2 separate regions of the Homo sapiens genome follow, and region 1 is linked to region 2. Evidence: fine-mapped expression QTL. A gene starts in region 2. The other region holds a variant in brackets. All regions are shown on one strand. Distances are from middle to middle. Region 1 has its middle 59 kb from the start of SLITRK4. Region 2 holds the start of SLITRK4 (SLIT and NTRK like family member 4).

Region 1 (16,466 bases), 63 kb before region 2:
TTGTAATTTTGTCTTTTAACATTTACTATTTTAATAGCCTGAACAAAGGCATCTTCTTAATTGCCGAGTGCATTATGTCACTGACAAAAGACAGGCCTGTAAAGGGTGAGAAAGGCAGGGTTAGCAGTGAGAGATTCTGACCTGCAATCAGGTTGCAAATAGTGCCTCATCTGATTCACTGGGAGATCTAGGGCTGAGATGGCCCTTTAAAGTTGTTCCAAATTGAAGCAAAAATACCCATCCTTTGTATCAGGCTGACCGGCCTTTGTATCTCAGATGTAGTCCGTCATCCAGTCCCTAAAAAGGAAGTATCCCAGGGCAAAACATGTCTGGGAGGCCTATGGCAATTTCCAGCTGAGAAAAGCATCTGGGAGCTGCCAGCAGCCAAAATTCCCAGGAGCTGGGGTGGCACCGGCACAGGGGATCTGAGCCTAGGTATCCTCTCCATGAATAGATGGATGAACACTCACGAATGTCAATGAGTAAAAAGGAAGCAAGCAAATCTGAGAAGGGGGCAAGGGAGAGAAGATAGGAATAATTGGTGAAAGGGGATGGCGCATCCCCCACAAAATTTTAGAGCTTTCAAGGAGTGTGTCTTCAGCTGTGGTTCACAAAGTTTCCTGGGCATCCCTCTTAATGCATTCAACTTGATTACAAGCCACTCTCTATACTTCTGTTTCTAAAGAAATTAGCATTTTACTCGCGAATATATAATGAAAATAACGTTAAAAAGCCAACTGCCACCATTTGTTGTTGCTACCTAATAAAAGTCAGCTCCAGCCTCCCCATTTTTTCCAGTGAGAGGTTTTTTTCTTCCTGAATTTCATATGCCAACTCGGGCCCAAGACAAATAACATTGCAAGTCATTTTTGTTTTAATAAGTTGGACTGTGCATCTTCTTTCCTACTAAGAAGCATTTACTGAGCTTCTACTTCATGCCAGGTGTTGTTATACTGTACCCTATGGGGGAGATTAAACATTTTTCCATATCGATCTACCCTTGATACCATCATAAGGCACAGGTGACTTTGCCATGACAACGTCAGAAAAAACGAAAGGCAAAATGCACACCACTGTTAACTGAGGAACTAATGCTAATGAGAATGTGAATACAACATTGTGTAACTTGCTCTTTTTAGATTCTAGAAATGTGAAATCTAGAAGTATTGCTGTCCTAGGTTGGTAGCTAGAGAGAGACACATGGTAGTGGGGAGGGTGTTTTGCACTTTGTTCCATAGCAGGAGAAACTAAGCCATTGTAAATTCTGATGAGAAAGAAATAGAAAATTAGTAAACAAGTTGAAGATACAGAAGGTGGGATCACTTGTGAATTAAATTATTTGAAGAGGGATAAGAACTGGGATCTGCCTCAGAGTGAAGACCTCTTTGACTATGATTGAGGAAGTAAGGGCATGGAACAGGAGGCCAGACAATTGTGAACAGCTGGATTGATCCAGGGTTATAATTTTGCCGTATGATACGCAGGACAGTGAAGGATCCAAGGAGGTGAAGGGTTTAGACAGTAACTAATTGAGAAGATAAATCTAGTACCTAGATTAAAATAGAAGATGGGGTGAAATCTGAAGAAAACTGATGGTTTGGGAGAAAATGAAAAAGTCTAAAGTTGGGAGGTATCAAATGGGTTATAAAAAGCAGGTGTTGAAGGAGAGAGAGAACAATAGTAGCAAGAGCTAGTACTCACTATAATCCAGCCACTGTTCTATGCAAACATCTAAAAATAACCCTAAGAGTATATATTGTTATTTTTTATATTTTATATGGGATGAAACTAAGATACTCAATGGTCAAATTGTGTGTGCAAGGTCAAAGAGCTGAGCAGTGGCACAGCTGTGATCAGTCTGATTTCAGTCTCTGCTTCTCTCTACTTTCTGACACAGGCCATAGAGGAGGGTTTGAAGTTATTATTTCAAGTTGGCAATTGCGGACGATTATGAGGTTTAGGGTGTGGCATGATAGTGGGTGGATAAAGTGGAATGAAGTCTGTACCCAGTTCACCACAGCTCTTCTGCCCTCTCCTTCTGCAGCTTCCCAGTGACTTTCTGCTTGTCATTGTGATTGCATCCTTGTAGACCTTTGCCACTAGAAGGCTGTGACTGGGTACCCAATGGAGACAGTGACTGGAGTAAACTGGGAAGGAACTGCATGAGGAAGTTCAAATAGAAAGATCCATCCACATTAAGGAAGCAGGAGTGCATATAAATGGGTAAAACACAGCTGTTTCCTGACTCTGTGCCTCATTTTTGCAAAATCTTTACTATGAGTTTTTTTTTTTTTTTTTTTTTCCCTGACTGTTCTCTGTGATTCCAACTAAACGTTTGGCAGTGTTTCAAACATTGTCAGTTTGGGGCACCATAACTAAAGTAGCACTGTCTTTCAATCACATCATTAGAGGGAATCTGAAAAGTTTTAGTCATCCCAGCAAATGTGTAGAACCCTGGGTTCAAAGCCCCAGCCTTGAAATGCAGCTATTTGAGTTAGAAGGTTACTTTTTTATGTGTTTTCTCCTTGCCCTGGTGCTAAGAAAACTAAAATACACAGTTTCTCCTAATCTGTGGAAGCTGTTAAATAAATGTCTCAAAGCTTTCTAGCATTTCACTATGCTAGCATGGAGGTGTGAAAAGAAGTTGTGTTTGTAATCCAGTTATGGCACCTGCTAACTGCAACACTGCCCATGTTACTTAAGCCTCCTGAGCCTCAGTTTTCTCATCTGTAAGATGTAGAAATAGTGTGAATGGCATCATTCCTGAGGAATGCTTAAGGAAGTCTGACTCATAGTAAGACCTCATATATGGTAGTGGTAGTAGTCGTTGTTGTTGTTGCTATACTTACGGTTTGCACTTCCTTTCTGCCAACTCATTCATTCTCCCCGCTGTGCCTGCCCCTTCACTGAAAAAGTTTCCTCCAAAGTCATCAACATCATCCTTGATGCTAAAGCTAATGGATACTTCACAGTTCATATTCAACTGGGCCTCTTGACGCCACGGCCCATTTTTTCCTTCTAAAGCACATTCTCTTGGCTCTGTACTAACATCTAATAAGTCCTAAGTATGTGTCCGGTGCTATTCTAAGTACATTACGTTAAGTATCGTATGTACCTGTGTAATCAATACTGTTCTTAGCCCCATTTTACAGCTAGGAGAAAGAGGCTCAGATAATTTAATTATTTTTACCATAGGTCACAGAGCTAGTGAGTGATAAGCTGAGTCAAGGTTACGCTTCAAGTTACTGTCCTGGACCTTCCTTCTTCTGGTCCACAAGATTACACTTAGCCTATGTAGTCACAGTTCATTCTTTTTTTTTTTTTTTTGACAAAGTCTTGCTCTGTAGCCCAGACGGGAGTGCAGTGGTGTGATCTCAGCTCACTGCAACTTCCACCTCCTGGATTCAAGTGATTCTCCTGCCTCAGCCTCCAGAGTAGCTGGGATTACAGGCACATGTCACTGCACCCAGCTCATTTTTTGTATTTTTAGTAGAGATGGGGTTTCACCATGTCGGCCAGGCAGGTGTTGACCTCCCAGCCTCATGTAATATGCCCACCTCGGCCTCCCAAAGTGTTGGGATTACAGGCGTGAGCCACCACACCAGGCCATAGTTCATTCTTCAGTGCTTATAGCGTGCCAAGTACTATGTGAAGCACTATATGTGTGTGTGTTATATGTGTATATGGACAGATGGATAGATTCCTTAAGAGAGAAGACAGATCCTTAATTGCAGTAATAGCTTTATTAGATAGATATTATGATTCTATCATCACTTATATTTACACAAAGAAAAGGAGGCTCAGAGAGATTAAGTAAATTTTTCAAGGTTACCTCGTTCGTAAATGACAGAACCATGACTTGAGCCCAAGCCTTTTTAATTTAAAAGTATTTGCTCTTGATTATTACATTTTACTACAGTGCAGTTCCTAGATAGTGCCCTCTCCAACTTCACGTAAGATTCAAATAAACTAGAACCAAATGGAACTCAGCTATAAAATTTACTGAAATATTTACATTTGTATTCAGGTGTATCTTTGCAAGAGTGGAAATGGGCAAACAGACCTGATAGCCTCAAATGCTGACTCGGAAATAATCAGGCCATCCCAAAACCCCTTCAAAATTATCAGGCTGTTAGAAGCCAAGTGGAAATGCTAAGGCCTCAATTTGTAAGAGGCAGGACCAGGCAGAAAACTGGGGTTTTAGCTTGTGCTACAAATAAACTCTGGCCTCAGTCTTCTGCAAATCAGGATGCCCAATCATTCACCCTCTTCAGAAAAGATGAAGAGTGGCCCCTCCACACCCCCAATGTGGCCTCGGTTGTACCAACAAACCACCTGTATCTACTAAGGCAGAAAATAGAACCATTCGAGGTAACTTGATTGTCACTACCATAAGAAGTCATGAGTACCATTTGATGACTTAGCATTTCTCTATGTGTGATTCTTCTAAAGACTAAATAATTCACGCTAAATTATAATTACTAGAAGGATATTTTAAGCCTAAAGTTAGAATTAATACAATTAATGTGTAAAACCACCTTGAAGTGTGAAAAGCAAATATTTTGATTATCCAAGTAATTTATAAAGCTCTTAGATAGCTTACTTAACAGTCCTTAAATTAATAGTGATTTCTGAATGAAAGTGAAATATTATGGATAATTTTTACACTAAAATGAAATATTATAAAATATAATTAAGAGGCTTATCAGCAGTCTCACATTTTGGGGATGGAATGCAAAGCTACAAATTGAGAAGCTTATTAAACTGGATGAGTGATTACTGTATCTGTTTCTGAATTATGAAATATTTATACTCCTGATGTCACAGACCATACAATATTTATGCTATGTGTGAAGTAAAATCTGTATTCAATATTTGGGCAATGTGACGGGGAAAGAACCTATTCCCTAAATTGATTCTAAAATTATCTTTAATTTAAAGCATTATCTCAGAATTACACATAAAGCTCTAAATTCAAAAGAAAGAAATATTTTTTTACTTGAATTGCCAAAGAATGTGATTCACGTCTCTAGTCACTTTGCCAATAGAGATAGCTAGTTTTATTAAACTTCTCTCCACCTGAATGATGATTTTGCTATAGACGCTTGCTCTCCCCTACCCCTACATGACTATTTTTAGAAAGAAATCCTTTTGTTTTTAAACATCGAAATACAAATGAATATTTTATCATCAATGTCAGATTTAGAGGTCTTCCATCAGAGACCAAATTAAAAAGTAGTGAAAATGCTTCTGTCTATAACCACCTTTAATTTGTTCTCTTTTAATTAATTAATTTATTTATTTATTTATTTTAGTGTCTTTTTTTATTATAGTTTAAGTTTTAGGGTACATTTGCACAACATGCAGGTTTGTTACATATGTATACATGTGCCATGTTGGTGTGCTGCACACATCAACTCATGATTTAACATTAGGTATATCTCCTAATACTATCCCTCCCCCTTCTCCCCACCCCACAACAGGCCCTGGTGTGTGATTTTCCCCTTCCTGTGTCCATGTGTTCTCATTGTTCAATTCCCACCTATGAGTGAGAACATGCAGTGTTTGGTTTTTTGTCCTTGCGATAGTTTGCTGAGAATGATGGTTTCCAGCTTCATCCATGTCCCTACAAAGGACATGAACTCATCTTTTTTTATGGCTGCATAGTATTCCATGGTGTATATGTGCCACATTTTCTTAATCCAGTCTATCATTGTTGGACATTTGGGTTGCTTCCAAGTCTTTGCTATTGTGAATAGTGCCACAATAAACATACGTGTGCATGTGTCTTTATAGCAGCATGTTTTATATTCCTTTGGGTATATACCCAGTAATGGGATGGCTGGGTCAAATGGTATTTCTAGTTCTAGATCCCTGAGGAATCACCACACTGACTTCCACGATGGTTGAACTAGTTTACAGTCCCACCAACAGTGTAAAAGTGTTCCTATTTCTCCACATCCTCTCCAGCACCTGTTGTTTCCTGACTTTTTAATGATCGCCATTCTAACTGGTGTGAGATGGTATCTCATTGTGGTTTTGATTTGCATTTCTCTGATGGCCAGTGATGATGAGCATTTTTTCATGTGTTTTTTGGCTGCATAAATGTCTTCTTTGGAGAAGTGTCTGTTCATATCCTTTGCCCACTTTTTGATGGGGTTGTTTGTTTTTTTCTTGTAAATTTGTTTGAGTTCTTTGTAGATTCTGGATATTAGCCCTTTGTCAGATGAGTAGGTTGCAAAAATTTTCTCCCATTCTGTAGGTTGCATGTTCACTCTGATGGTAGTTTCTTTTGCTGTGCAGAAGCTCTTTAGTTTAATTAGATCCCATTTGTCAATTTTGGCTTCTGTTGCCAATGCTTTTGGTGTTTTAGACATGAAGTCCTTGCCCATGCCTATGTCCTGAATGGTATTGCCTAGGTTTTCTTCTAGGGTTTTTATGGTTTTAGGTCGAACATTTAAGTCTTTAATCCATCTTGAATTAATTTTTGTGTAAGGTGTAAGGAAGGGATCCAGTTTCAGCTTTCTACATATGGCTAGCCAGTTTTCCCAGCACCATTTATTAAATAAGGAATTGTTTCCCCATTTCTTGTTTTTTTCAGGTTTGTCAAAGATCAGATAGTTGTACATATGTGGCATTATTTCTGAGGGCTCTGTTCTGTTCCATTGGTCTATATCTCTGTTTTGGTACCAGTACCATGCTGTTTTGGTTACTGTAGCCTTGTAGTATAGTTTGAAGTCAGGTAGCGTGATGCCTCCAGCTTTGTTCTTTTGGCTTAGGATTGACTGGGCAATGCAGGCTCTTTTTTGGCTCCATATGAATTTGTTCTCTTTTAAATATACAGGTGAAAAATCATATAAAGTCTTAAGGCAGCGAGGTCTCAAACTGTATCAAGTATATAAGAATCATCTGCAGATTCTCCAGCCGACCCTTCTAGATGCTGAATCAGTGATTAGGTATAAATTGGAACGAGGGAATCTGCATTCTTACAACACCTTAAAATATTTCTGATGTAAGTCATCCCCAAATTTCACTTTGATATAATTCCTCTGACATGCAGGCATTATATTTTAGTATAACCTATAGGTCATGTTGTATAAGAGGAGTTTGAGTACTAGAGCAGACAGACTGAGTTTGACCATAGATTCTGCCATTTGCCAGCTGTGTGGCTTTGGGCAAATGACTTCACCAATATGATCCTAGTGCCTCATCTATTAACAGAGGATATAAATTATTGCCATGTACCTCCCAGAGTTCTTAGGAGGATAAAATAAGAGAGGCGGCCAGGTGCCATGGCTCACGCCTGTAATCCCAACACTTTGGGAGGCCAAGGTGGGCAGATCACTTGAGGTCAGGAGTTCAAGACTAGCCTGGGAAACATGGTGAAACCCCATCTCTACTAAAAATACAAAACTTAGCTGGGCATGGTGGTGCACGCCTGTAATCCCAGCTATTCAGGAGACTGAGGCAGAAGAATCGCTTGAGTCCTGGAGGTGGAGGTTGCAGTGAGCCAAGATCCCACCACTGAACTCCAGTCTGGGTGACAGAGCAAGACTCTGTCTCAAAACACACACACACACACACACACACACACACACATACACACACACACAAAACATGGTAGTGGCCATGCGTGGCAGAGTTGATATGTGTTAACATCTTTTCACTTTCCCCTTGAGCACACAGCTAGGCTGCCTTTCCTAGCCTCCCCACTGCAATTAGAAAGGCCACATAGTTGTGTTCTGGCCAGTGAAATGGGATGTGTTTTAGTTCCTGCCAGACTTTCCTTGCTACTGACTCTCTTCCCTGTTTGCCATCTCAATGTCAATTCCCAGAGCAGTCTTGGGAGCCATGTGTGGAACGTGGTCAGACTTGCACCCAAATGATGCTTGGAGCTGAGCCCCCTCTCTGCCTACCTGCATCGGACGGAAGCATGAGCAAAATGCTAATCTTTATTGGGTTAACACACTGAGATTTGGGATTTATTTGTGACTGTAGTTAGTCTACTACTCCGTGAGCCATAAAGTCCTATACAGACATAAGAGATCAACACCTGGGGCAGTGCAAAAGCAGAACTGATAGGTCAGGCTGGCTTTTTAAGAATAGGCTTTGGATCTGAGAGAGGTCTTCTGCTCATACATACCTCTTCCCTCTATGTTCACTTGTACCACTGGGCCATTTGTTGGCAGTGCATCATAGAGCCAACATAGGAGTTAGAATGGGAGACCAAAGACTTTGTTAGCAATGAAAAGTAGGAACTAGATATGAGGGCATTGATGCATAGATGGAGGGTGGCAGACTAGGATAGCACAGAGGCCTGAGGTTGCTAAAGAGCTGGATTCAGAAGACAGGCAAGCAGGCGGAATTCAAGGAACACATGGATAATGTCAAGAAAAGAAATGAGGCACTTTGTCCCAAGGCAACAAACGTGCAAAAGCAAGTGGTCAGTATGAGCCAGGAGACTGGAAAAGATGGGTTCTGTATTAGTCAGGGTTCTTTAGAGGGACAGGACTAATAAGATAGATGGCTATATGAAAGGGAGTTTATTAAGGAATATTGACTCACGCGATCGTAAGGTGAAGTCCCACAATAGGTAGTCTGCAAGCTGAGGAGCAAGGAAGCCAGTCTGAGTTCCAAACCTCAAAAGTAGGGAAGCCGACAGTGCAGCATTCAGTCTGTGGCCAAAGGCCCGAGAGCCCCTGGCAAACCACTGGTATAGGTCCAAGAGTCCAAAAGTTGAAGAACTTGGAAGTCCAATGTTCGAGGGCAGGAAGCATCCAGCACAGGAGAAAGATGGAGGCCAGAAGACGTAGCTAGTCTAGTCTTTCCACGTATTGTTGCTTTTATCCTAGCCATGTTGGCAACTGATTAGAAGGTGCCCACCCAGATTGAGGGTGGGTCCACCTCTAGCAGTTCACTGACTCAAATGTTAATCTCCTTTGGCACCACCCTCACAGACACACCCAGGAACAATACTTTGCATCCTTTAATACAATCAAGTTGACACTTAATAATAACCATCACAGGTTCAAAGTCCAAGAACACTGTTCTTTGCTCCCATCTGAAATTCGAACCATTTTTCAGGACTTTATTCAAATGCTACCTTTTTAAATAAAACCCCCAACTAAATTAGGAGGTTTGAATCTGGAGTCCATGTGCCTGGGGGATGTAAGAATAAATTTCCAAAGAGTTCTTGAACTCTTTACACTTAAATGCAAAATCATGTGCCCATATTTTTAGGGATAGAATCTTTTCTTTTCATCAGCTTTTTAACGGGAGTCAATGAATAAAAACGTTTCAAAATATCTTCATTGGTTTTGTGAAGAAAGGCAAGTGTTTCTTCTTATCCATCACTTTACCCCTGCTTAGCACAATGCAGTTCAGTAAATGATCACTGAAAGAATATATGTGTCTTCCTCTGAGTCTCCAAGTTGAAATTTCTCTCTTGGTCATTGTGATTCTCAAATCACTTGGTTTAGAAACGTACAAAACGTTCTTCATAGTTGTTATACTAATTTACATTACCACCTACAGTGTCCAAGAGTTCCCTTTTCTCCACATACTTGCTAGCATTTATTATTGCCTGTTTTATGGATATAAGCCATATCCAAGACATTTGGGGTGAAATGATATCTCATTGTAGTTTATATTTGCATTTCTCTGATGCTAATGTTGAGCACATTTTCATATGTCTGTTTGCCATTTGTATGACTTCTTTTGAGAAATATCTATTCAAATATTTTGTCCATCTTTTGATCAGATTATTAGATTTTTTTCTATAGTGCTGTTTAATCTCCTTATATATTCTCGTTATTAATTCCTTGTCAGAAGGGTAGTTGCCAATATTTTCTTCCATTCTGTGGGTTGTCTCTTCACTTTGTTGATTGTAACTTTTGTGCAGAAGCTTTTTAACTTGACGTGATCCCATTTGTCCATATTTGCTTTGGTCCTTCCCACTCTTCCCTCCCTTTTCCAAAGGCAGAGGAGCCACCCCTGGCCACAAGGAGTACTGCCAGACTACCACTGATTTTCCCTTAAGTCTCAAGGTCTCTTAAGTCAGCTTGTGGTGAGTGCTGTCTGTCCTGGGACTCATCCTTCAGGGCAGTGCACTCCCCTCTGTCACAGGGCAGGTCCAGAAATGTCATTCAAGAGTAAACAGTCTTGACTTGCTGCTCTACACCCCTGTGGTGATGTTGGTACTTGAAGCCAGCAAGTCTCAGAGGCTCACCAAAACCCTTGATGTAGCATAGCACCTGGATATTACTGCTGGTTATTCAGAGCCCATGCTAGCAGGACTGGATCCCTTTCTTCAAATAGGTTCTCTTCTGGCCCAGGGTATATCTATAAATATCATCTGGCTGATAGGGCCTGGAATGGGAGCCTCTTGACTCTGACTG[G/T]TGCCATATCCTGCTGTGGCTAAGCTGGTATTTCAGGTGCAAGAAACGATCCTCCCCACTCTTCTCTCTACTCTCCTCAAGAGGAAGAAAAGGGTCTTTTTTGGAGCTGTGAGCTGTGCAGCCTGGGATTAGGGGAGGGGTGATGCCAGCACATTTTGCCTGCCAAAGCTGGTGTCACAGTATGTCATGTGGCCTTCTAATCCATTATCTCTAGGCCTAGTTAAGCCCTTGAACTCACCTAAGAGTTGCAGTGCTTATGGGCTAGAATGCCTTTCAAGTTTAGTTAGAGACTAAGAGCACTTTGGCCCTGGGTGGCAAGGTTTGCAGGCACTCAAGTTTGAACCACTGGGATTGGAAATTCCCCTCTGGCTAAGGCTGATTTGAATGCTCCCTCTGTGGGCAGGCATCAGCTGAGTTTGGTCTGGTTTTTCTTTTCTGCTCTAACAGAGCAGCACTGAGTTCAATGCTTCACAATTGCTGTGTTCTCCCTCCCCCAGTGCCCAGAGATACTCTCTGTACCAGGATTCCACTGCCAGAGATTGAGGAGGGGTGGCATCAGCAATTCAAGGCTGTTTTTTCTACCTTTTTGGTGCCTCTTTCAGTGATATGAAGCTAAAACCAGGTACTGAGTGCTCACCTTATTTTTGGTTCTTATAAAGGTGTGTTTTCTGAGTAGATAGCTGTTAATCTGATGTCCTTGCTGGGGGAACTATCAGTGAAGCTTTCTATTCCACCATATTCCTCTACCTCCCTTGAATTGGCTTCTTTATGATCATATAGATTGTAAGTTGAGTCAAATTCTTATCTGATTTTAAAAACTTTTATCATGTTCATATTATATTATATTACATTTGGCAGTATTATGTTATAATATGGTGCTGTAGTGTTGTGGGAATCAGAAGACCAGAGAGACCAATGGGTGGAACAGGAGGATTTTATTTAGGTGGCTACTGGCACAGCAGATTCACATCCAAAGGCTGAGCCCTGAACAAACACAGGGCTTGACTTTTATATACACTTCTGAAAGGGAATTGGCTAGTTTTAATGCAGTGGCAGGAAACTGAGGGCACAAAACCTGTGAGGCGGGCAGGCAGGCTTACAGAAGCAGAACAAAGGCAGTTAATCAAACTGTGACAGGTTTTGTAACCTAAGCATAGCTTGTGACCTTACAGCTGCATGGAAGGGAAAACAGGAACTTACAAAACTTGAGACACTGAGTAATGGTAAGGGGGAAGAGGAGATAGTAAAGGAATTTGTTTTTCTTATCCTTGCTCCAGGGAGGGGGAGGGGTTTGTTGGGAGAGTCTCCGGAGCTCATTCCTTTGGGCTCTGGCTTTCCAGATAGTGTTATTGAGACTTTGCCAGGGCCCTGCCTATTGCTGGCCTTGGAGTGAGTCAGCCAAGTATAGGAAAACTTGTTTTTCTCTTTTTAACTTCTGCTTCAATAGCTGTCCCTCAAGATTGTTGGATTGAACTGACTTGAACGGAACTGAATTGAATTTTCAGCATGGGCTGAATCATGGAATCAGCATGGGCTACCAGGCAGTCAGAAACCTTTGCTCAGGTCCAACCATCTCATGTTACAGGTGGGAAAATGGAAACATACAGTGGAGAGTGACTTGCCCAAATTCAGACAGCCAATAAATGGTTAAGCTGAGTTTCTTGCCTCCTGGATAAGTGTTCTTTCTTCCATTATGTTCTGTTCCCCTTTTATTTCCTTGGTTCATGCTGTACTGGAGTGAGATCAATGGGTCAACAAATACAGCTAAATCTCTATAAAAAATTATGCATGTCTTTACAGCATAATTTAGCTCATAACATTTTAAGATACATTTTGACAGCTGGTAATGATTATGGTTATTGATTAGACAATGCATTTTTATGCATCTAATTTTCTACATTTTTAATTTCAAATATTCTTTTAAAAACAGAAGTAGAAATGTGCCAGATCTTATGATAAGTGTAGGCTACTTAATTTGAAGCAATTGCAGTCCCTCATTAGTAATAAATTAAGTATTGAAGAGAGCAGATCACTTTAATGTGTCAAAAAGAGCCTTGTCACTTGACATAATTTGAGAAGTCAACATGTGCATTTTATAATGATCGTCCATATCCAGTATTTCTGATCTAGCTTACTCTCAGTTTCTATTACTCATGGGACTTACCCAAGACACTTGTTGAGTTACAAACAGAGCCAAATATAAAGAACAAAACAGTATCATAACTTGAATCTAAGAATAGTTGGAATGATATTTAGAACTGATCCACATCATGGAACGAAGTGTACCACCAGAAGAAGCTGCATTTGGTTGTGACTGTTTCTGTTACTCCAACATGTCTCTTCAAACCAGACAATTAAAAAATCAATTGTTTTTGTACTGATTTTTACCAAAGCAGTTTCAGTGAAAAACAAATTTTTAAAAATCCTCAACCCTCAAAATACTAATTAAAAGTATCAGTTTAGTTGATTTTTCTTTTGAACATTTTTGACCTAAATGCTTATAAACAGTATCATTTTGTATCTTTTAGTAACTATGGGCAACTGTTGAGTGAGTTCAGTCAATGATTAAATTAGTCATAAAAAATGAGTTTTGATAACGAGAAACAAAAAAGATGGTGAATGGTGAATTTAAGATTAAACCAATATTGACTTGATATAAATACAACAAATCAAGTCTCTCACATCATAAAAGTGTTTGGCTTTCTGTGAGAAATTTACCAAATGCTTTTTTATGATATTTTTACCAAATTTAGAAAAACAGGGAGCGCCAAGCAATTATTTAGCAGAAAGGCTAATAGACATAAATATCATAACAGCATCTTGTAAATGATGAAACTATATCATCAAAAGGAAAAGACAGAAATGCAATATGAGTACAAATATTTATAGGCACAATCTGCCCATTTGACAAGTACTGACTGAGTACCTACTACTCTGAGCAAACCACCAGGACCAGTGGTACACAGGTTGGAAACCTGACTATGGCAGGAGGCACACAGTCCTGCCCTCCAGGAGCTTTCAGTCTGTAGTGGGGAGAGCAGTACAGCACTAGCTGGAATAAAAGGTGTTAAGAGAAAGGAGGGAAAACACAGAATGAGGTCAGGGAAGGGAGAGAACACAATTTCAGCAGAGGAGGTATTTGAAATTGCATAGTGAGTATCTAGAGCTGACACTCCAGTTGAAAAGACTGCCAGTCTCCTGGGCACACTACTCATTCTAATGTAGTGTGATCAGGTTGTGCCAGTGGTGTAAATGGAATAGAAGAAGATCTGGGAAGATGCTTAAAGACAGTCATATGTGAGCTGGACTTAAAAACTAATAAAATATAGTGCTAGAGAAGTAAGTAGGTGCCTAATCATTTAAGGTCTTAAACACCATTTTAAGATATTTGAATTTTGTCCTGTGAGCAATGGAGAACCATCAAAGGGTAGTTAGCAGAGGAGAGACTGGTCGTATTTGCATTTGAGAAAGAGCACCCTGGCTGGAATGTAGAAAATAGATTGGAGGGAAGGGGAACAGGCAAGAAGGCAGGAAAATTTATTGAACTAGTTTTTAAGTAGAAGATTATTATGAGAGCCTAAGAAGGTCGTGGTGAGACTGGAGAAAGTGGAATCTATTTGCCAGTAGAAGTGAAATGGAAATGATAAATCTTAGAGATATACTAGGTAGAACTGATTGGACAGGGTAAGTGACTGGATTTGAAGGTATAGGGAAAAAGGAGATAAAATTACCCACTCTGGTTTTAACTTGGCTGGCCACATAATGAGTAATAGCATTGTATTAACGTGTATAACACAGAAGGACTGCATTTCAGTGTGAGTGGTGGCAAGGGGAGGAAACCGGGAAGAAGAAAGTGAGAAACTGATCTAACTCTATGAGAGCAAGAAATACCTTATTTTTTCTTATTGCAGCTTCAGCGCCTAGCTCAACAAATACTAAAATGGTTTAACGAGAAAAATGAATTGTTTTCAAAGTGCCGTCGAAGGTATTTGAATCTATGAACAGAGCTGTAGACTGAAAAGAAAGTCCGTTTCATGCATTGACCTAGTACTTAGTGAGCATCTCCTATATGCCAGGGAGAATTCTAGGTATTGAGGATATATCAGTAAGCAAAACAGTGGCAATCCTATCTCCATAAACTTATATTCTAGTTAGGCGGGAAAGACAATAAACAAATAAACATGTAATATTTCAGTTGATGATAAATGCTACGAAGAATATAAAGCAGCATAATAGGGTTAGAAAGTGACAGGATGCTTTTAATATAAAGTCATCAGCGAAGGTCTCTCTGAGAAGGTGATATTTGAATTAAGACCTGAAAGAAAGGGAGTGGGACATGTGACTATTTGTGGGAACAATATTCCAGGTAGAGAAAATAGCAAAAATAACAATATCGTAAGGTAGTAGCATGCCTAATACCTTCAAGTTCAACGAATAACAAGGAGGTGAGTGTGACTTGAAGAAAGAGAGCAAGAGAAGGAGGTATAGAAGATGAGGTCAGAGAAACAAAGGACTGGATTAGGTAAATCTTTAAAAGCTGGTATAAAGACTTTGTTTTCTTTCTCTGAATGAGGGCGGTTCCCTTGGATGGTTTGGAACAGAGGAGTGACATAGTCTGACTTACTTTTTAACAGAATCACTTTGCTATATAGAGAGTAGTTTGTAGAAAGGCAAGAGTAGAAGCCAGTTAGCAGACTAGTTACACTAGTTAGAAGCCAGTTAGAAGACTCTGGAAGTCATCCAAGCAAGAGGTCATGATTGCACCAAGGTGGAAGCAATGGAGATGGTACGGTGAGAAGTGGCCAGATTAGATTCTGCTGTAGTTTTCTTGTTATTTTGATTTGATTTTTATTTCTTAAAGGTAGAAACTGACAGGAATTACTGAAGTATTGGTATGTGGTGTGGAATAAAAAGGGAGGCAAAGCTGACTCCCAAGCATTTGGCTTGAACAACTGAACAAAAATAAAGGAGCAGCCATTTGCTAAAATGGAGAAGAATGTAGATGGAGCGAGTTTTTGAGTAAAGTATTAGCAGTTTGGTATGGACATACTACATTTGAAATGCCTATTAGTGCATATGTGTAGTTGGCAGTTAAATATATGAATTTGTATTTCTGGTAAGAAGTCCAGAGAGGAGATAAAAATCTGGAAGTCTTCAGCATATAGATGATATTTATAGCCATGTGACTGGGTAAGATCACCCAGGAAATGAGTATAAATAGAGAAGAAAATAGATCCAGGACTAATCTTAGGAATTTCAATGTTTAGTGGTCTGGAAGATGGGGAAGGTGTAAGCAAAAGATACAGAACGAGAGAGACCAGTAAGGTAAGAAAAGAAAAAAGAATGAGTGGTGTCCTAGAACCACGTGAATCAGTATTTTACAAAGAAGAGAGTGATCAACTTTTCAAATGCTCCAGACAGGTCGGATGAGAGGAGGACCGAAGATCAAGCTTTATATTGGCAACTAGGTAGTAACTTGTGACCTTGACAACAGCTGTTCAGTGGTGTGGCGTGCTTCAGATGAAAACATGATCATGGTGGGTTCTAGAGAAAATGGAAAGAAAGAAAATGGAGATGGTAAGTGGAGACAAGTATTTCTGAGTATTGATATCCAGGAGAGTACTGATGTACCTAGAAATGTATCTACCTGGTCAGAAAGGGAGTGGGGTGCAGATCGCATAGAGTCTTGCAGGCCTTTGTGTTTTACTCTTAGAGATATAAGGAATCATAATTCTGGAACAGAATGCTGAGAAACTCCCATATTTAGAGGCCTGGAAAAGATGACAGAGAGTGAGTAAGATGCTTTTAATGAGGTAGAAAGAAAAATAAGAAAACATGCAAGCAGAAGCCAGGACAGGAGAGAAGCGAATGGTCAGCGATGTCAAATGGTGCTTTGAATTCAAGCAGGATGAAGATAGGCTTGGCAAAATGTATGCTGTGATTTTCCTTATGAGAGCTGTTTCAGATGTTTCAATGTGATGGAAGGGAAAGATGTGATATTGTAGTGGGGTGAGGAGAGTTGAGAAGATCCAAGAGTAATAGTAACCAGACACATTGATCTAGGACATA
Region 2 (16,466 bases):
TTATCAATCATGCTTAAATCTTGCAATCTGAAAATATTTTTTCCACGTGGACCGTCAAACTCTGCCCTTGAACACAGGCCTTAAGCTTCCTACTTGCACTTCAAATGACCGAGACCATCAAGTATGCCATCGAGTTTGTACCACAAAGCCATTTTGATTAGTGGATATCTATTCTCTAAGCTTCAGCTAGATAGAGAGGCTGAATTAAAAAAACAAAAACAAAAACATTAGAGCCCAGAGTTCACTGGAGGATGGAAATGGGAGGATTGGGCTGCTGTAGCAGGGACTGTTAAAAGACTAAGGAACAGTGACCTGGGAAGAGATTTGCTTGTGCTGTAGCCCCATAGGTAAGTTCATTGCTGTCAATCGGTTTACTCCTGTACACTGCTGCCTTCAAAGACACAGACGACGCTGTGCGGTTCTAGAAAAACAACTGAGTAAGGGATGGCCAAATTTTATTTTCTGGTAAATAAACAGTCTCTAATTTCCTGTCAGTCATCTCCCAAAGAGGGAGCAAAAAGCCTTTTGTCTTGGAGCCTCTGAAAGCAGCAGAGTAACCTGCTTACTCCTGCATTGCTTAGCTAATCTCCAGGCAGTCTTTCCACTTTGAGAACTGGCTCTCTTGCCTCCCTGGCCCTCTCCCACATCTTTATTTACCATTTTGAACCCAGGTCCGACTGATCCTCGGCTTAACTGCTTTATCTCTTTCACTTTGACCACAGACTGCAACTGCTGAGGAAGGGGAGTTCACACAACACAATCTTTGAGTAGCTTTTGCTACAGCACCAAATATGTTCAGTACAGCACATTTTTCGTCCTAAAATCATCAGTTCCAAACACCCACCCGCCCTTCCTAATATTACCACCCCATGTCCCTGACTGTAAACGCATAAAGAATCACTTGTTGGTAGAGTTTAATGCTTAGCAAAATAACTCATCGTTTTCAGGTCCTTAAATACTGCATATATACACAAACATACACGATGCTTCCTGGAAAAGATTAAACAACACAAGCAGAGTGCATTTTATTGATACTATTTTAGCAATATTAGTCTTTTCCATTGTGAATGGGAAGCTGGGTGCAATTTCAATATCGTTATCTCCAAATATTAATTAAATACATAAAATACCCAGGAACACACAACAAGGAAATGATGCAAAGAAAGAAGTGTCGCACAGAAACTCCTTTGTTTATTTTACCCACGAGGAATCAGCTAGTGGTAAAACCGAACATGTCTCAAGGTAGACAACCCATTAGCCATGACCCAGGAGGATTTGCATTTTAAGTAGTTTGGTTCAGAATACAGCCAGCACTGCTGAGATGCTATTTGGCTGCCATATAGACGTGCATTTCCCCTATTCACCATGAGAGCATGATTGGCATTGCAAAAAGAAGTCATAATTCTTAACTATGACATCACCTAAAGCAACTTTCATTGTAAAATCAAAATTTCACTTGATATTTTTTGCCTTGTTATGAATGTGGTTTTCAACAGCTATTTTGGTTCAGTTGAGTCATTTCTTGTTACTAAACCACCACCCCACCCACCTCAAAACAAAGAAACCCAAAAGCAACCAAACTAAAAACCAAACGCAGAAAAAAAAAAATCCTTATAATCCGAATTCAGTACAAAAACAAGAACCAGGAATCTCAACACATCTGAAAATGCATAAGGAGCTGCCCTCCTCCTGGTGATTGCTACTTTAAGTAGCAAGGGGGGGAAAAGGCACTAGTAAGAGCCAGGAAGTTCCCAAATGCAGCTCTTGTGAAACAGAGGAAGCCACAAGCAGCTGGAGGGGCAGGCAAGAGAGAGAAAGAGTCCAGTTGGTCCACCAAGGAGAGAGGAAAAGAGGTACTGAAAGGGCAAGAGACCATGGAAATGTGGAGAAAGGAAGAAAAAGAACTCGGAGAAGGGAGCTACAAAGAGGGTAAAGGGAGCACTGAATGTATGCGAATAAAGCCTCACACTCCGGTGGTACCACTGAAACATGCACATTTAAACATCAAGGGAAAAACGCAAAAAAGAAAAGAAAAAGCCCACAAAGTACCAGCTGGGTACCAAGAGCCTTCTCTGTGGCTGCTGGGAGCTGTCCGTCTTCCTCTCGGTGCCCTGAAAGACCCTTGGCTCTCACGACCAGCCAGGACTGAACAAACCTAGCCCGACCAAAAACAAATCCTGCATCCACCGGAGTGCAGCGCCTGGCACTCCGCGACTGGGAGGAGAGAAGCGGCCTGAGGGGGGCAGAACACTGATGGGCTTCAGGGCGGTGGGCCGAGGTGGCTCCCCGAGAGCTCCCTCGGGAAACCCCGCTGGCCCGCCTAAGGCTCGGATGGAGGTGGAAGAGGTTCGCGGAGAGACCCGGCCATTGCCGCCCGGGTGCGCTACCTCGGGCGGGCGGCGAGGAGGCTGGAGGGGCTGCTAGCGCGTACCGCAATGTTTTGCCGCATCCCTGTTCCCGGAGCCGGCCGCTCAGCCCCCTCCGCGTCAGGGGCCCAAGCAGCAGCCTGGCGGTCCGTGTAGCGGAGGCGGGGTACCGCGCGGGATGTCGCGGGGGCCTTCAGTCCCGCCGCTCACACATTTCTCCGCGCGCTCCCGTCCCACAAGGGGCAGCTGCCGGAGTTTCAGTGGACCTCTCTAGACCCAGGCGTGCGGTGGGTGAGGAGGAAGAGAGGCCAGATCAGGCCGCCTCGAAGACGTTGGCACTAGGGAGTCACTGACCTGCTTGCCACGGGCAGAGTGACCCTGTGGTTTTGTGGCTGCGAGCGGCGGCCCAGGCTCCCCCTTGCCTGTTCTCCCTCCCTGGCCAGCTACAAAAATCCTGCTCTCACCATGCCAGAAATCAGCTCAACATTTAGGCCCCTTGCAAAGTCGCGCTGGCAGCGCTCGCCTGGCTTTGCAGAGCTTTTAGAGTTACCCACCGGCTCTTCCTCTGGTATTCCTAGTCTTGCCGAGCGCTAGCAATCTCCGACCAACCCGCGGGCCACTGCCCCGAGCCTCAGATCCACGTCTGCGGAAAGTGGCTGCGAGTGGGGTGCAAAAATAAAGCCCAACCCAGCCCAGCGGCCCGACAGCCGGAGCCACCCGAGACCTGTACAACTTGCCCCGCCGCCCTGGCCGCTTGGGGTATGGTGGGGGGGGGGGCGGGCAGCGATGCCAAGGACACCCGGATCCTTTCCGGTCCTCAGCGGCATGAGACCGCGTCGTAGGCAGGCAAGTGGGAGGTGGAGGGCAGGATTAGCCACCTCGGCCACTTTGGCCACTCAACCGGCCCCAAACCAACAGGACCCAAACTAAAAATAATAAGCTACCTGCCCCCTCGGCTCGCGTGCGCGCGCGCGAGATCTCTCTCTCTCTCTCTGTCTCTCTCTCACACACACACACGCACGCACACGCGCTACTGAGCTGAGCGGGGAAGAGGCAGCACGCGTGTCGGTGCAGCTTGTGCAGCCCCCGCTGAAAATTCACCCACCTCTAGAGCCCAGCGTCTGGTGCAGGGCCCGCGGCGCCGTGACCTGCGCTGCTGTTTCCACGATGGTATCTATGTGATTCCGGACAGAGCTCCTCCGCGCCCGCTCGCCCGTCAAACCCACGGAGCAGCCCCAGCAGGCGAGCAGGCGGGCCGGCGGGCAGGCGGGCAGCGGCGCGCGCGCGCACCCGAGCAGACACCGCGCGCGCACCCAGCGCCTAGCACACGGGCTGCACCTTTACATACACGCGCTGAATCCCCGCCCCCGCTCTCCACCACCCCCCCCCACCCCGCACACAAGCAGTCCTTCCTCCCGACACTCGACCACTTTGACCCCCTCACATTCCTGAGCTCCTACCCCCGTCCCCCATCCAGACATGCCCATTTGATTCCTCTTCTACCCACACACCCAGAAAGACAGCGCGCTTTCCTCCCGGCATCCGCCCCCTCTTTTTGCCTAAAACATTCCCTAGGGAGGAGCGACCCCTTTCCTCAGGCGTGGAGACCCCAGTCCTCTAACAAGGGCGCACTCGCCTCCATCCCCCCCACCACATACACACACACTCGAGCCCTTTTCTTCTCTTCCAGTCCCCTAATAACGAAGGAACACACACACACACACACACACACACACACACACACACACACACACACGGGGCATTCCTTTGAGAGAGCAACCAAGAAGCCAGGAAAAGCCAAAGAAACACTGGAGAGCCTGGGGGAGGGGGGCCGAGGGAGATCGATAGGGTCGTCGAGTCTACGCGGAATTGAATAATTACAGGATGGAGGGGAATGAGTCAACAACAATGACATTCAAATGCAACAATCATACTTGGATTTTGTATCACGGGTACGGTACCTTTGGCTAATTGTCACCCCGCAGAACGGAGGGCTCCTGGAATACTTCTCCGTGGCGGTCGATCCTGGAAGGAGCCTTCTTGGGAACCAATTTCCTAGGATCCAGTAGTATTCGCACTCCCCCTACCTGTCTGCGCGTAAGGGGCCAGGGGCTTTAAGGCGAAAGTGTGAGGCTTTAGCCTAAAGTGAGACTATTTAGCCGGGTTAGAAGGAGACGGGTTAATTATCCGCACCTTAGAACTCCGTGGGCCTTTGGTGCAGAATGGGTTAAGCCGGATGATCTTGGAGCTGGGGGTGGGGATAGGGGATAGGGGATAGGGGTTGAGGAAAGAGAGGCGTGGGACTGGGAGAGATGCCGCACTTGCGACCAAAAGAAAAAAAAAAAAAAAAACTACTTTGGCTACTGAGCATGCCCAGTTCCCAGCTCAAGCCCTATAAGGGAGGCATTGTGTGCATTCCACTTCTCCGGGCTTTGGTGGTGACCGGGAGGGGAGTTTGACTGGGGAAGGGGGTGGTAGTTGGGAGACATTAGGGAAAGGGGGTTGGAGAACAAGGTTTGAAGCTTTGGGACTGCTCAGGAGGGACTGTGAAGAGAGAAAGGGAAGGGACCCACGGAGTACCTTCGGGAGACGGGGAGAAGGAGAGGAAATGGACTAAGAAAAGTCACTTCAGTCGCCCCTCATTGTGTATACCAAAGAGGCTTTAGCAGCTGAATCTGAAATATCCAGTGGCTGCAAATCCAACGTGTGGATTGTCTAGGCCCCTTCTTCTACCCTTTTTGTTAGTGCTTCCACAAGAGATAAGAAATATTCTGAGGAAGGGCCAATGTTCAAACCAGTTTCATGCAAATTGATAATTTCGTTAATAAGCTTGTTAAGAAAATAAATAAACCTGGGGGAGGGGAGCAGAGAGGAGTTGGCTATCATGTATGTATTTCAGATACCTGGCTTTCCTAAACAAAAGGCATAAACATTGGATGTGCTCCCATCCCCCAACCTTGCTGTTTTTTGTAGGAGCTTGGCTAAGAAAAACAACTCTCTCTCTCTTCGTGTCTGTGGGAATAAACTAGCTTTAGGTAAGTAGAGCTAAGTTATAAATGGGAAGTATTTCCCTAGGACTCTTGGTAGCCTATTATTTGCCACATTCAGGTAATACTGCCAGGCCCATTTCTTCAGGACCAGTGTGTTGCCCAATTTACTTATTCAAATCCCAGCGGCTCTAGCCACAATAGAGCACAACCGGTATCCAGAAATGTTCTTGCTTAAAAATGAAAAAAAAAATCTTTAAGCTAAAACTAGCAACAGCTTTGAAACCAGAATTTGGCTGTCTGCCTGAACTCCTACAGTTAAACATTTACCATAATTGGTTGATGTTTAAAGGCCCCAAATCTAGGTAGAAACATCTGATGGGCAAAGGATTTATTACATTATTTGTGAATAATGGTCTACCTTCTGTATCATCTATAGTAGTCATTCATATACATGTTTCATTGTTTTTCATTTTTTGTCATTTTATGGGACTTCCGTCAGGTTATATTCACACAAATGTTCACCGGGCACAACATGTATACAGAGATGCACGTACAATATGTAAATGAATACTTAAATAGATATGCGTGTATGGGCATATTTCTTTATGACCTTGCTAAATATTGTGTCGTTCATGAAGAACTCTTTCTCTACCTTCACTCCACATTGCCTTGAAAACTGTAATCATCCTCTCTTTTACAAACAACCTAGAGACAGAAATTGGGCAGCATTGGTAAAATTTATCTTATTCAATGTGAAATCCATTATGAAATAGCATTAAGGAAACACTAAAATATTTGTCTATAACAGCGTATGTAATTGTGCAGCTCCTTTTAGCAAAGTGAATGATGTTTCCTTCATAGGTAACAGCTGCAGAATGTTGAAAAATCCCTCTACTCTTGCACACTTGGACAAAACAGATCCTGCTAATTAATAACTCACATTTGCATTTTATTGTGTAATGCAGTTTGAAAGTAGTAATGGGTATCAAAACAAGTTGGCATTTATTCTAAATGCTAACAATTCAGGAAGCTGAATATATTTTATCCAGATAGGTGAAATGTTTGTCTTTTACTACAAATGTTAACAAGAGTCAATAGAATGAGCAAAAAAAGTTTACCTGAAAATTCTAAGTAATGTGATAACTGAAAAGGCCAGATTTGGACAGTAAATATCAGATGATTTAAATGCCTATCTTTATTCAACTTTAGAAACTGTTCTGAGACTTGGCTATATTTAACTGCAATAACTGTGAAATGTTATTTTTCATATGGATATGGAGACAAATCTGAAAGCCACTGTAGCTAGATCATCGATAAATTACAATTCATAATATTCCTAAGAACTTATCTGTGATTAATATTCAACTTTTTTAAATGAATGCTTTAAAATAAAATGTTTTGCTACTTAAAAAGATAAAGTGGACACTCATAAAATAAAACAGAAGTAACAACTTCCATGTTTTATGCTTATTTTGCTTTCAAAGTAATTAACCCAATCCTTTAGTCCCACAGTCCCTTTTCCGTCCCCTAGAACTACAGGTGACATCCCAATAGAACAGTAGGAAATGACACAGAATTGCTAGCTTAACAAAGGAAGTGAATATATACATAAATAAAAGTGTTAAGAAAACTCCAGCACTATTTATGGCCATTGAAAGAAAAACAAAATTGATGTTCTTCCTAAAATGTAAGCATGCAAATATTGTGAGTTTTGCAATACTCTCACGGTCTTCCTCCAAATGTTTTACCTTATTTCATCTTGACTTTTTAGGAGTACAACCAGAATCGTAGGTCTACACTGATATACTGTGTCTCCCTCCATCAGGGAAAAAAACAACTGCACTAAGAATTTCAACAAGATCCTGTATACCCTCCGTTCCGAAGGCAGTTTGGAATTAAGTCATTAAAACACTACCAACCGAAAGTGATTATAATGCCAAGTCTTGGCCCTAGTCAGCGGTCTTTCACTTTCACTGTATTCCTCATTTATCTTGCCTTGTCTTAGGCTGCTGCTCAAAATCAAATCAGCCTTAATTTTCGTATCCAGGTATCACAGATGATTCAGTGTATTTTAATATTGAAGATTTATTTATATTCTGGCATTTTAACAGTTACAAACTTGCTATTTCTCTTTCATTTTTATTTATTTATTTTTGAGACAGAGTCTCACTCTGTCACCCAGGCTGGAGTGCGTTAGTGTGATCTCGGCTCACTGCAACCTCTGCCTCCTGGGTTCAAGCAATTCTCCTCCCTCAGCCACCTGAGTGGCTGGGATTACAGGCATGTGCCACCATGCCCGGTTAATTTTTGTATTTTTAGTAGAGATGGAGTTTCACCATGTTGTCCAGGCTGTTCTCAATCTTCTGACCTCAGGTGATCCGCCCATCTCGGCCTCCTAAAGTTCTGGGATTACAGGCGTGTGCCACCGTGTCCGGTCACACACTTGCTATTTCTCTAAGTGGAATACAAGAAAGTTCTTAGGATGTTAATATATCTTCTGGGAAGAAATGTTTCCATGATCAAATAAGTTTAAAAGACCCTTGGTTCCGTAAAGCTAAACATTTTATTTTTACTTTGGGATTTTTCAACACAATTAATTATGTTTAAATGAGCTTTTATTTACCAAGGGAAAAGGGATATGGCATGTGGCATTTCACAGACTTACTTAACAATGGAACCCTTTTTTCTATCTATATAATTTGAAAAACATACTAATAGCCCATTTTTACAAATTTTCTGGAATTTAGAACATGAAAGGAAGTTTTCAGATCATAATTAACCCATTCAATAGTAGCTACTGTCTGTTGAGTGCCTCTTCTTTGCTGTGCTGCCTACAAATATTATTTCATTTAGTTCTATGAACAAGGAAGGGATTATCATACTTATTTTAAAAATGAGGTTAAGTGACCAGGCATGGTGGCCCATTCCTGTAATCCCAGCACTTTGGGAGGCTGAGGTGGGGAGATCACTTGAGCCCAGGATTTCAAAACCAGCCTGGGCAACATGGGAAAAATCGTCTCTACAACAAATACAAAAATCAGTGGTGCATGGTGGCACATGCTTGTAGCCCCAGCTGCTTGGAAGGCTGAGGCGGGAGGATCACTTGAGCCCAGGAGGTCAAGGCTGCCATCAGCTGTGGCCATGCCACTGCGCTGCAGCCCAGCCAACAGACTGAGACTCTCTCAAAATAAAATAAAATAAAATAAAATAAAATAAAATAAAATAAAATTCAGGGAAGGTAAACAGTTTGCCCGAGGTCACATGGTGAGTAAGTGATGGTCAAGATTTGACCCCAGATCTTTGAGGTTTTTCCAGTACACCACATTTTCGTTTTCACAGGGGGATTAGGGAATTTTTAACTTTGAAAGCAGAATAGACTTGAAAGCTGGGCAGGGTGACTTAACGCCTGTATTCTCAGCACATTGGGATGCCAAGACAAACAGTCTGGGCAGCAAGGTGAAAAGCCATCTCTTTAAAAAATAAATTTAAAAAAATAGCCAGGCATCGTGGGGTGCACCTGTAGTCCCAGGTACTAGGGAGGCTGAGGTGGGAGGATCGCTCAAGCTTAGGAGGTCAAGGCTGCAGTGAGCCATCATCAAGCCACTGCACTCTAGCCTGAGCGACAGAGTGACCCTGTCTCAAAAAAAGAGAAAGGGATAGATTTGAAAGCAGAATAAATTTTCCAAAGATGAATACTTGAGACATAAATGTTTTCAAGTATTAAAGTATGAATACTCAGCACAGGAATAAACAAATAAATGACATTAAAAACAGTTCACATCAATTATGCATGACAAGGTCTCTTGAATCAACTGATTTTACCTTTTGCCAGTAGTAGCCTTGTTCTATCCATTCTGCTCTTTCAACTCTCATACCTGAGTTGATTCTGAATCTGTGATGATGTCTCAAATGTTCCTTATTAGGGATAATCACTTTCACTATCACCAAATGAAGCCATGTGTATTAGTCAGTGTTCTCTAGAGGGACAGAACTAATATATATACACACACACACACACACACACACACACACACATATATATATACACACACTTATATATTTTATATATACATATATATATATATATATATATATATATATATATATATATATATGGGAGTTTATTAAGTAGTATTAACTCACATGATCGCAAGGTCCCCCATTAGGCTGTCTGCAAGCTGAGGAGCAAGGAATCCAGTCTGAGTCGCAAGGCTAAAGAACTTGGAGTCTGATGTTCAAGGGCAGGAAGCATCCAGCATGGGAGGAAGATGTAGGCTGGGAGGCTAAGCCAGTCTCACCTTTTTACATTTTCCTGCCTACTTTACATTCCCTGGCAGCTGATTAGATGGTGCCCACCCACATTAAGGGTGGGTCTGCCTTTCCCAGCCCCCTGACTCAAATGTTAATCTCCTTTGGCAACACCCTCACAGACACATCCAGGATCGATACTTTGCATCCTTTAATCCAATCAAGTTGACGCTCATTATTAACCACCACACCAAGCAAAGCAGTAGTGTTCATCCCTAGACTTATTCCAGTTAAGACAAAAGGATTGTTATAAAATAGGATACCAAATGAATTGGAAAATGTGAGACTAGTTGATTATTTGATTAGGTTATATCAATTAACCTGACCTTCCATTTTGCTCAGACTTCTTTATAGTACAGCTGGTAACCTGGTGTCCTTTTCAGAAACTCAGGCATCAGGTGTGAATGTATTACAGTCTGTGTAGCAAGGCATTGGCTAATTTTTCAAATAACACTTCACTCAGAAATTATTATTTCTAGAATAATAATAAAGAGGGGTATGTTGTTTTGCAGGGTCTTTGTAACTTTGGCCCCTAATGGGTACTTGTCCCTATGGCTAACTAGAACTACCTATGTGGTTTAGAATATTGCTAAGCCAGGGATGCTGACAAAATAGTGTCTCTTTTCTATATATTCTCTAACTTGGAGAAATCTCACTGTCAAAGATTAGGGCCCAGCCACAAGCTCAACAGCCCTCAGACAACTCAAAGATAATAAAGATCATAAAATAAAAAATAGGAAGTTAATAGCTAAACAGTCTAGTGTGAGAATTACTCTTATGGGCTGTAAAAGTTCCATAACACCAACTGAAGCTTTATCAGAGAGATAGTAAGTTGATAAAAATCTTTCTGTTTTTATCGTGTTCCACTCTATCTCGGGAACCACAGTGTTGTCCCTAGCTAGCAAAACATTATTGTTTTGCAAAAGCATTGAGGGTCTTTTTTTCAATGCTTTTATAACAATATTACTTTTCCTTAGAAATATAAACTTAAATCTTTCTTTCAAAAGTGATCTTAACTGGAGTGAGATAATATCGAAAAATAACTTGAAAGAATGGATGAGACTCACTACTTGATAGCACAACAGGGTGGCTATAGTCAATAATAACTTAATTGTACATTTAAATAATTTAAAGAGTAATTGGATTGTTTGTAACTCAAAGGACAAATGCTTGAGGGGATACATATCCCATTCTCCATGATGCGCTTATTTCACATTGCATGCCTGTATCAAAACATCTCATGTACCCCATAAATATATATACCTACTATGTACCCACAAAAATTAAAAATAAAAAAAATAAAAAGTTGATCTTGTTCTCAGCTCCTCCTCCTTTGTTTTAGAGGCTCTTGAACAATTCAAAAGTTGGGTCAAAACCGGAGGCATAAAACAAGGCAGAAAAGGCATAATATAAAAATATGAGTTATGGTATGACTGTATTGCAATTGCTATATTAAAATAAAGTTTATCCCTTTCCAAGCCTCAAAGAGTGAGTCAGAGGAAAGCAGAACATCTGTGTAAGCTAGTGTCATGCATCTGTGATTGACTACCTTCTTTTTCAGTTTGAATTTGGAGCTGCTAATTCCCAACTCTGACTCAAATTGAGTAATGTCTACCCACGTAAGGTTGCCGTGAGTAAACAGTCCTCAGGTCCCATGTAAAGGGATCAGGGTATAGGAAAAATTGTCATCACAGAGAATTTCTTCTCTTTCAGGTGCACAGTTTGGTTATCAATTAGAAACAGGGTTTGAAGGAACCTCAAAGTTCTTCTAGTTTAAGCACTCACAAAACTGATATCTTATCAAATGAACACTCAGTGCTTGAATACACCCAGTCATGGGGAGCTCACTGAGGGTAAGCTCTCCAGTGAATTATTCAGAAAATTAATTACAGAATTTTTGAAATTGTTGCTGTTTTGTAAATATTCAGGAAACATAAAATTAGATCTATCAGGGTTTCAGGAGTGTGAAATTTGGAACCAGATGAACTTGGTGTTAATTTCTTGCTTCACTATTTAATAGTTCTGTGAGTTAGGGCAGTTAACTTCTCTGCGCTTTCATTGCCTTTTCTGTAAAGTGGGCAGGACAAACTCAATAGTCCTGAGTTTATGAGGATTAACAAGTATAATGTTTGACAAACACCTAGCACTGTGTCTTTCTGGCAGAATATTTTTATTTCCTTCTGTTTATAAACAGAAAAGACTTCCACATATACAAAAAAACAAATAATTCAGACCATGTATTATTTCCCTTCTCGAGTCTAAGGATGGCGAGTAGAAGAGAGTGGTTGGATTAATTCAGTGTATCTTTTGTTTATTTCAAAAGCTAGAACTATTATTTAAAAATAAATCCACCTGTTCTTACCCCACCTGGTATCCTTTACTTACTTTTCTATTCTCATTTCACATATTATTAGTTTTTTTAAAAGTTAATTTTAACAACAATCTCTGTAGAATTGAGGATTGCAGACTCCATTACTATTTTTTAAAATAATCGTACGTGCCTTGCTTGCCAGACTAACCTAGAATCTCATCCTCTACATGTCAGACCCACGAAAAGTGGGTATTATCATTATTGCAACAAAGTTCCTCATAATGGCCCTGGAAAGAATGTTAAAAATATATTTTTCTGAATCTTATCACTGGTTTTTTTTTAGGGAAGCAAACAGGAAAAGAGAAAGGAAAGGAAAAAAATGAACCAACGTGTATATAGCTTTATTGTTTGTAATATATGTGCAAAAAAAGTTCAAGTGAGTTGGGGGCACTAATTTTATCATTTTGCCAGTGGAAATGTATATTTTTAGAAACTTAATGACTTAAAGAACTAGTATTCTTTTTTTCTATTTATTTATTTTATTATTATTATACTTTAAGTTCTAGGGTACATGTGCACAACGTGCAGGTTTGTTACATATGTATCCATGTGCCATGTTGGTGTGCTGCACCCATTAACTCGTCATTTAGCATTAGGTATATCTCTTAATGCTATCCCTCCCCACTCCCCCCACCCCACAACAGTCCCCAGAGTGTGATGTTCCTCTTCCCGTGTCCATGTGTTCTCATTGAAGAACTAGTATTGTTCTATCTAAGATTATTTTGTCATAAGAGTAGCATATGCTGTTTTTAGAGAAAAGCAAGTCAGATCTGACAAGGTGTGATGCAATTATACCTAAGATCACATTCGTGTGATAAATTATGTGTAAATTAATTCAATCTCAATCATCTAATAACTATTCAGACAGATATAGTGCCTATTGTATCCATTGTTAATTGACTTTTCTTACAATATTCATTGTTGGAAATGTTGACATCTAACTTACATCATCTCGATTCTATTTATACCTTCTCTAGTAAAACAATTCTAAGGTTAAAAAAAAATATTCTAAGGATGGCCTCTAGACAACTTTTTTTTTTCCCCATATAGTTCAAGTTTTTGGGCATTTTACTTCCATTTATAGCTGAAGCTATTCTATGAAATTTCATTTTTATTATCTTTATGGATGAAGAAATATCCAGAAAGCCAAACTACAGGATTCAGCCACTCAGGGCAATGAAAAAAAATCACAAATGGACCATATAATGATTATTCCTTTCATTTCTTTGCCTGTGTTTTGAGATGTGAGTTTCCTGAGCCTTGAAAGGAGAGGAATTTTGTTGACAGTCATCCAGATTTTCTCCTTGAGAATCTGTCCTCTGTGACATATGGCAGGCTATCCCTGTGAGGGGACCATGGTTCTGGGACTCTTATCTTCCATTCCTACCCCTCCTTGTATACTTTAAGAGGATATCTGGACAAAGGTCAAAGAAACGCCATTTTCCAATATAAAATTTAGTGAGTGGCCAGAGTTGTGCTGATCTTTTCTCCAATTATGTCTTGCGAACAGAAAGATTTACATGATAGTTTGACGGTCTCAAAGTTACTACCAAAATTTAAACACGAAATTAAATATATTGACAAATTCTCTTTGGTTTAAAAGCATTTGTAAAAAGTTGTCAGATTTTGTAAAAGAGAAATTTCCGAGGTAAGGGTGTCTTACTGTAAAACAAGTTGAGTTTGGTAAGCAGTGGAAACTCTGTAAGGAGATAGTTTCATACAGTATTTTTGTAGTAACAAAGGACGGTCAAGGACTGATGGTTAACTGGATTGTGGCTCAAAAAGTGAATAGTGAATGTGTTTGGGTCTCTTTTTCAGCTCATTATTAAATATTATATAAGGTATCTCCAATTCATTTGAGATTCTGATTTTATCATTTATTAAGACTAGTGGCAAGAACAGACCAGCCTACAGGGGAAAATGGATAAAGGAGAAACAAATGGCATTTCAGCATACTCGTGCACACAATATCTAAATTACACATAACTCTCAAGCAGGTTTTTGTTCTTAGTCAACTCATTAACCACTTCAAGTAATTACCTTTTTTTAAAAAACGAAGCATATTGTCCTCTTTATCACTGATTGAAAATTCTGAATTAAACACATTTGTACTCAGAGCTTTTCTGGGAAAGGGCAAATTTAATCCTGAGACTTCCTAGTCTTCCTAGTGAGCCATATCACATTGTGAACCACATAGACATAAGCTCTCCAGAATTGAAACAAACCAGTACCACTCGCCCTTGCCATCCCCATCCTAATGGTTGATTTGATAGCTGCACATTGGAAGAATCAAAATGTACACCTAAAACAAATGAGCATGTTTTATTCTGTCCTAGTAATAGAAAATTATCTTTCCTTTTGTTCTCCAAGAACTCCAAGAATTTCAAGAACATATGGAGTTTTAGTAGAGGTGACTGACTACAAATAATCTGCTCAACCATAAAGTACAGTTTATTAAATCTTTATTGAATGCCTATAATTCATCAGACTTTGGGTGCCAAGGTGAAGGAAACTGCCTCTGTCCTCCAAGATCACTTAGTTTAGTGATAAAGCAGATGAGACTATGTTATACTAAACAATACTATATCATGTATTGTGTTATAATAAACAATACTATATAATGTATTGATTGAACATGTCCTTTAACTACTGACCGCTCATTCTCAAACTTTACTAAATTTCTCGGTTTTATAAAATGTTGTGAAATACTATAGTTAAAGGCAATAATGGTAAGCTTCCATGGCACATATTCAAGGAAATTAAGAAAATCAGAACACTGCCTTCCATCACATGGCAAGGTCAACAACTTGTATGTCCTTCTGGAGATGACACAGTCCAAATTTTTGATATTCCTCCAGAATATAGAGTCAAAATTTACCATGTGCCAGGCATATTTGGAAAGTACATTAACAGGAAATGTTCTATAAAATAAGAAATGGAATCATTTGGAAGGGCCAGAAATTGAAGTAGTTCACATATGCAAAAGAAATAAAATGGAAGAAGATACCAAAACAATAAGGGTCTTCTCAAATTTGATTTGCAAATCATGAAAAAGGAAGAGATCCTCATGTTGTTTTCAGGGGTGTGAACATTACAGTCCTCTCTTGGTATCTGTGGGGAGTTGGTTTCAGAACCCCCAGGATACCAAAATTCGAAGATGCTCAATTCCCTTACATAAAATGGCATAGTACTTGTATATAACCTATGCCCATTCTCCTGTATATTTTAAATTATCTCTAGATTACTTGTAATATCTAATACAATGTAAATGCTATGTAAATAGTTGTTATACTGTATTATTTTTATTGTTCTATTGTTATTTTTATGAAGATCTTTTGAAATTCATATTTTAAGCTCTGGGGTACATGTGCAGGTTTGTTACATAGGTATACGTGTGCCATGGTGGTTTGCTGCACGTATCAACCCATCACCTAAGTGTTAAGCCCAGCATGCATTAGCTATTTTTCCTGATGCGTTCCATACCCCACCCCCCAACATGCTCCAATGTGTGTTGTTCCCCTCCCTGTGTCCATGTGTTCTCATTGTTCAGCTCCCACTTACAAGTAAGAACACGTGGTGTTTGGTTTTCTGTTCCTGCATTAGTTTTCTGAGGATAATAGCTTCCAGCTCCATCCATGTCCCTGCAAAAGACATGATCTCGTTTGTTTTTATGGCTGCATAGTATTCCATGGTGTATATGGACCACATTTTCTTCATCCAGTCTATCACTGGTGGGTATTTGGGTTGGTTCCATGATTTTGCTGTTGTGAATAGTGCTTCAGTGAACATATGCGTGCATATATCTTTATAATAGAATGATTTATATTCCTTTGGGTATATACCCAGTAATGGGATTACTGGATCGAATGATATTTCTGGTTCTAGGTCTTTGAGGAATCTCCACACTGTCTTCCACAATGCTTGAACTAATTTACATTCCCACCAACAGGGTAAAAGTGTTCCTATTTCTCCACAACCTTGCCAGCATCTGTTGTTTATTGACTTTTTAATAATTGCCATTCTGACTGGCGTGAGATGCAATCTCATTGTGTCCACAGTTGGTTGAATGCACTGATACTGAGCGCCAGCTGTATACAGTGTATATAGTGTTAGGGACTTGGCTTCCCGAGTGGAACTGAGAGCCAAATACAATAAAAACTGTCTTCTCTACTTTATACATACATATATGTATGTATGTATCTAGTGATTGAGAAATAACAAGCAGGAAACTGCAACTGGTTCTCAGGAAACAAGAGCAGCTGGCAATAGTATCTTAAATATAAGCAGGTCTAGTTTTACATTATTACTTTTTATTTTTAACCAGTATACACAGATGTGCCTCAATATTTAAATGGGCCAATTGATAAATACTTCAAGAAAGAGAGAAATCCTACTAAAATTATTTTAACAAGGCTAAAATGTGGATTTCTT

The links. PIP is the estimated chance that this variant, and not a neighbour inherited with it, causes the effect. A credible set is the group of variants that fine-mapping cannot tell apart.
Region 1: its variant is the best candidate, but not a certain one, in a credible set for the expression of SLITRK4 in skeletal muscle (GTEx, PIP 0.56).

What each region holds. Positions count from the first base shown.
Region 1 is chrX:143,568,878-143,585,343 of GRCh38, forward strand. No RefSeq gene overlaps it. Among named protein-coding and RNA genes, the nearest start is that of SLITRK4, 59 kb to the right of the region's middle. The variant G/T (reference allele first, on the strand shown) is at 10,398.
Region 2 is chrX:143,631,408-143,647,873 of GRCh38, forward strand. It overlaps SLITRK4 (SLIT and NTRK like family member 4), which reads right to left and starts at 4,694. Exons shown (of 2, transcript NM_001184749.3): 1 at 4,328-4,694.